Linked DNA regions of Homo sapiens: region 2 is linked to region 1. Evidence: fine-mapped expression QTL. A gene starts in region 1. The other region holds a variant in brackets. All regions are shown on one strand. Distances are between the middles of the regions.

What was found. PIP is the estimated chance that this variant, and not a neighbour inherited with it, causes the effect.
Region 2: its variant is the best candidate, but not a certain one, in a credible set for the expression of PFDN4 in pancreas (GTEx, PIP 0.56).

Annotation. Positions count from the first base shown.
Region 1 is chr20:54,206,583-54,209,510 of GRCh38, reverse strand. It overlaps PFDN4 (prefoldin subunit 4), which reads right to left and starts at 1,424. Exons shown (of 4, transcript NM_002623.4): 1 at 1,387-1,424. The coding sequence starts at 1,410. It overlaps LOC124904937 (a long non-coding RNA gene), which reads left to right and starts at 1,470. Exons shown (of 2, transcript XR_007067669.1): 1 at 1,470-1,554; 2 at 2,455-2,565. RefSeq lists enhancers at 393-1,209, 1,350-1,669, 1,210-2,027 and a silencer at 1,090-1,359.
Region 2 is chr20:54,106,059-54,108,986 of GRCh38, reverse strand. No RefSeq gene overlaps it. Among named protein-coding and RNA genes, the nearest start is that of BCAS1, 37 kb to the right of the region's middle. The variant T/G (reference allele first, on the strand shown) is at 1,288.

The DNA of each region.
Region 1 (2,928 bases):
TGGGACACAGTAAGAATTTTTGGATGGCAGAATAGTAGGGTGAGCAACACATCCTGAGTTGGCTGGGGCTTTCCCATTTTTGGCAGTCCCTCAATTTCATATAAAAGGGGGCAATGGGTCACCCTACACCAGGCACAGATGGCATAGACTATGTGGTACTGGATAGGGGCAAAGCAAAGAAGTTCTAATGTGGTCTTAAAAGTGGAATGAACGCAAATCCCTCCAGCCAAGAGATTCTCATCAAAGACCCCCTATAGCAGTTTAAAACACAGACTCCGGAGTCAGAATGCCTGTGTTTAAATGCTAGCTTTGCCTCCGCGCCTGTTTTCTCATTGTTAAATAAGGATAAAAACAGTATCTCCCTCAAAGAACATAAAATAAACAATACACGCAAAACAACTTACAGCTGTACCTAGCACACTGTAAAGCTCCCCAAATTATCAGCCGTTATCTCCTTCCCCCTCTCCAATTTTCTTTTTCTTCTATCTGACTATCTTTACACATCTGGGAAGGCTCACGGGATTAAAAACCCCACATGGAAGTTTAGCCGGCTTAGTGGTTACACAGGCGTGCTTTGAGAAAAACAAAAACAAACCTGAGTTTGAACTCCAGCTCTGCTTCTTACTAGCTGAGTCACTTTAGGGCCTCTAACTGCTCTGTGTCTAAGTTTCTCTACCTGCAAAGTGGAGAGGAACCCATTGCACTTGCTGAGTTGCGGGGAGGATAACAGATAAACGGCCGGCTGCTGGGCCCGGCACATCTTCCATTCTCAATAAATACTGGTTTTAGCCTGAAGGACTCAGGGGCATCAAGCGTGGAAATGGGCAGCTCCAGGTTGGACACAGGGTCTCTGGGGCCTGCTAATCTGGGGATGCAGGAACCTGCTGTCCCCGTTATGAGCTGCGTAACCTCGGGCAGGTGACTCCCCATCTCTGGGCCTCAGTTTCCTCACCCGTAACCACGCTCCCAGCAGCAGCTACCCATAACCAGTGAGGCTAATGCGATCATGCCGGTGCAACGCCCGAGTCAAGGCCAACCACACTCAACGGGACCTTCGGCTTCCCACACCTCAGGGGCGAGGCCGGGGCTGCAGGTTCCTCAGACTCCCCGGGGGCACCCTCGGCATCGCGGGAGGCGGACCTGCGTCCTTCGAGGCTCCCGGCCCCAGCCCCGGCGCCCCGCCTCGGCTGGCCAGGTGCCTAGGAAAACGCTCAGGGCGCCAGGCGCGAGCAGGCCTTGCCGCGGGACCGCTCTCAGGGCCTCGGCCTCGGCCTCGGGTCCCACGCCGGGCTTCGGAGCTGCGCACCCCCAGCATCCCGCGCCCGGGCCCCAGCGGCCGAGATCCGGCGCCGCCCGAGCATCCAGAGCCCCGAGCTCCCCACTCACCGCCTTCTTCATGGTGGCCGCCATCTTGGGACTGGACTACCGCAGGCGGCGGGGAGGGCCGCAATGGCGCGCTTCGCCCCCGAGCGTTCTCTCGCTCCCGGTCGGCCTAGAACTCCCCGCAAAAATACAACACTGTCTCCACATTCCGTCCTCTTGGACTTTTGGCCAGTGAGTCCAAACGGCTGGGACGTAGGGAGGAAATGTGACCTGGAAGGACTTGGTACATGCCAATTAAAGGGACAGGCAACCCCCGTGGACCGACATAAACACGGGGGTGTGGCGAACGGCTCCGGCCGCGGGCAGCAGGGGGCGCGCCCAAGGCTCAGCGCGGCGGGGCCCAGCTGGGGCAGGATCAAAGGGCTCGGGGAATTTTTCTCCATCCGTCCCACAGACTTGCATTGAGAAAGCTAACCTACCTGTAAAACAGCTAGGAACGAATGGCCTTGGCAAATAGGGTGTGAGATTTATGTGCCATGATAATTCAGGTGGTGTAAAGGAGGTACTCCTATCTTTTAATGTAATTTTTTTTTAATTTAAATTCGGGGGGTATGTGTGCCGGTTTATTACATGGATATACTGCATGGTGCTAAGGTTTGGGTTTCTAATGATCCCGTTGCCCAAGTAGTGAACATAGTACCCCACAGGTAATTTTTCAACCCCTTTCCCCTGCCTCCTTCCCCGTTTTTGGAATCCGTAGCATTTATTGTTCCCACCTTTATGTCCACGAGTACCCAGTGTTTAGCTGTCACTCATAAGTGGGAACATGAGTGGTTGGTTTTCTGTTTCTGTGTTAATTCACTTAGGATAATGATGTCCAGCTGCATCCATGTTGCTGCAAAGGACATGATTTTGTTCTTTTTTATGGCTGCATAGTATTCCATGGTGTATATGGACCACATTTTCTTTATCCTATCCACCACTGATGGGCATCTGGGTTGATTCCATGCCTTTGCTGTTGTGACTAGGCAATCCTATTAATTAATTTACAGCAATATTACTGAACAATTACTGTATATTCTGACACTTGTGTCTCCCAATTAGTAATTTTTTTTTTTTTTTTTGCCTTAGGACCTCTTTATACTCCTGGAAATTACTGAGGACTCCAAAGAACTTTTGTTTATGTGGGTTATTTATCGATATTTGCTGTATTAGAAATTAAAGCAGAATTTTTAAAATGTATTTATTAATTCATTTAAAATAATATAAAACTCCATTCCATGGTAATAAAAATCACACTTTAAAAATAACTATATTTTCTAAGACAAAAATAAATTGAGAAGATTGTCATCATTTTACATTTTCACTGATCTCTTTAATATCAGGCTTAATGGAAGGTTACATTCTCATGTCTACTTCTGCATTCAGTCTCTCCAAATACACTGTTTAGTTGCCTAGTTGTAGGTATGAAAAACCCCAGCCTCATACAAATCATGTAGTTGGGAAAGGGAGGCCCTCATGGATCCCTGAAAAGGTCTCAGGGACCCCCGAGGTTCATGGGCCACAGCTTGAGAACTGCCCCTGACAAGCCTCCTCCTTTCTCAA
Region 2 (2,928 bases), 100 kb after region 1:
TAATTTTGCTTCATAATAAGATCCAGCAATCCCACTTATGAGTATTTATCCAAAAGAATTCAATTCAGGATCTTGAAGAGGTATGTGCACTACTGTGTTCATAGCAATGTTATTCACAATTGCCAAGATGTGGAAACAACCTAAATATCCATCAAAGGGTAAATGGATAAAGTAAATGTGATATATATACATATATATATATATATATATTCCATTGTATGTGTGTACATGTATAATTATATTCCATAGACATGCACACACATACAACGGAATATAATTCAGCCTTTAAAAAGAAGGAAATCCTGAAATATGTGATAACATGAATAAACCTTGAAAACATTACATCAAGTGAAACAAGCCAGTCACAGAAGGACAAACACTGCATGTTTCCACTTATAAGAGCTAGCTAAACAGTCAAACTCATAAAAATGAAGAATAAAATGTAGGTTAACAGGGTTTGGAAGGAGGAGGAAATGGGAGTTGCTAATCAACAAATATAAAATTTCAGTTATGCAAGATAAGTAAGTCCTAGAGACCCATGTACAACATTGTGCCATAGATAACAACATTCTACTGTACACTTACAAGTCTGTTAAGAGGGTAGATCTCATATTACATGTTCTTATCAAAATAAAATAGAATAAAATAAAATAAACCAACACAACACAAACCATCTATGAGGAAGGATTGTTTTATGTCTCCACCTGGCTTTTTTGGAATGTAAGTTCTGTAAGGAATGCAAAAGCCCTTCCTGTCGAGCCATTTCATTGTTTAATTGTCATGGTTAGACATTTCATGGTGTGCTGAATTGGGAACTTTTAAGACATTATATACAACATTACATACTTCAGATTTAATGCATCTATTTCATGACATGCTTTGTGTTATTCACATATACACACACACGCATGGAGTCACCCTGCTGGATTTGTACCCGTTGACACTGATCTCATCTATGAACTGGATGCCTCACCCACCCTCCTGGTCTGCCTTGGTTGAAGTCACACTTTAACCGGAAGGTCACAAACTCCCCAGCCTCTCTGAACCTTTCCTCAATAGGTCAGTCATAATTCTGCAGGCACCGGATTTCCTCTTTAAGCCCTACCTATGCTGTTGATTACTTGAGCAAGCAGCAGAAACACTGATAAACAGCAGGGAAGGATGCCGTTTGTTCTCACCAACTGTCTCACCTCCTGGCCCTTCTGAACCCTCTGTGGGCCAAGGAGTGTGAATGAGTTGGCCATCAGGAGAGCTCGTGGAGTTTACACAGACTAAGTGGAAGCCTTA[T/G]TAAATAATTAACTCAACTTGGGCCCCAGCTTGCACTGTATGACCTCTCATCTGAACCCAGCAGAAAACAAGGTCTAACACTGAGAACTGGAATCCCTAAGTCCAAGACCTCTTACAGAAAGTTTGTAGCACAAAAAATTGCTGTCCCCTCAAAACGTACACCTAGACATAAGGTGCTAAGTCTGTTGAAACTATGAAACAGATGAAGACAAAAAGAGGAGAGAAGGCAAAACAAGTAATAAAATGGGATTTTTTTACAATTATGAAACATTTCAAGCATACAAAAAAGCAGCCACCATCCAGCTTTGTCAAATCTTGGCATTGGTCATTCATGCCCCAACACGTTCATAAAAATCACATCCCAGATGCAGTTGAATTGCACTGCCTTCTTTTCAGCAAACCCATCTTTGTTCCTCCTTATCCAGAAACAACAGCCATTCTGAATTCAAGAATTTGGTATTCACTATTTCAAGCTTGTATGATATTTTTGCAATATATGAATATGTTCATGATCAGTTTTATGATACTGTTTGCAGATTTTATTCTGCATATATTTTCCTGTAATTTCCTTTTAATTCAATATTTTACTTTTATGATATTACCTTGCCAGTACTTAGAGCTCTAATTCATTTGTTTTATCTAGTTGCTGAACCTTCAGTTGGTTTCCATTTTTTACTATCTCAAATCCTTCTGCCACCAACATTCCTGCCCAAGTCTCCTTGTATACATGTGTGAGTCCCTCCAGGATATTAATTACTAGGTCACAGGCATGCACAGCCTCCTCCTTACTAGATCTTGCCAAATTATTCCCTCTCCATGGTTTTTGCAACTTCAAATGCCCACCAGTACTCTATGAGAGTTCCTACTCTGGTACAATTCAATATGATTTTATTCCAAATTTTTGGTTCACATGACGCTCTTAATGAACAGCTTTATTTCATTGGAAAAAGAATGAAAGCTATAGGTATTAACTTATGACTACATAATCTACACACTTTAAAAAGGCATAACAGTGAATTAATAGCTTAAGATTTATACCTATCCCATATACACACAATTATATTTATATTTTATATTAAAAGCATTATCTCTGAGATAGAATAACAGCTTCCTAACATACATGTCAATATAGTAATAATAACCATAATTTTAAAATAATAGCTAGCAGATTTTGAGTATTGACTGTGCAGGCAACACTGCATTCCATAAATATAATAGCTTGTTTAATCCTCACAACGACCTCGTCATTTAGAAACTATTATCATTGTTATTATTATTCATTATTATTCCAGTTTAGTAGAAGAGCTAACAAACCTTAAAGCAAATAAGCCAGTTGGCCAGAGCCACATGGCCAGGAACTGATGAAGACGGGATTTGGACCACTCTCCTCTAAGCTGTGTAACTTCAGAAAATCTGCTTTGTCTGCCCGTTTCCTTGCCTGGCTAATGGAGAAAATAGGACCTGTCTCTCAGGGATGAAACTGAGGCTATAATGCAAGAAGAGCAGTTAGAATAGCAACAGCACATGGTAAGCACTTTAATAATTAGTAGCTTTCACTATTTTTCAGTTTAGTAGTTCCATCATTTAAAAATATTATAAATAAAGATAATATTAAGATGAAAAGCAAAAATTGGAGACCTT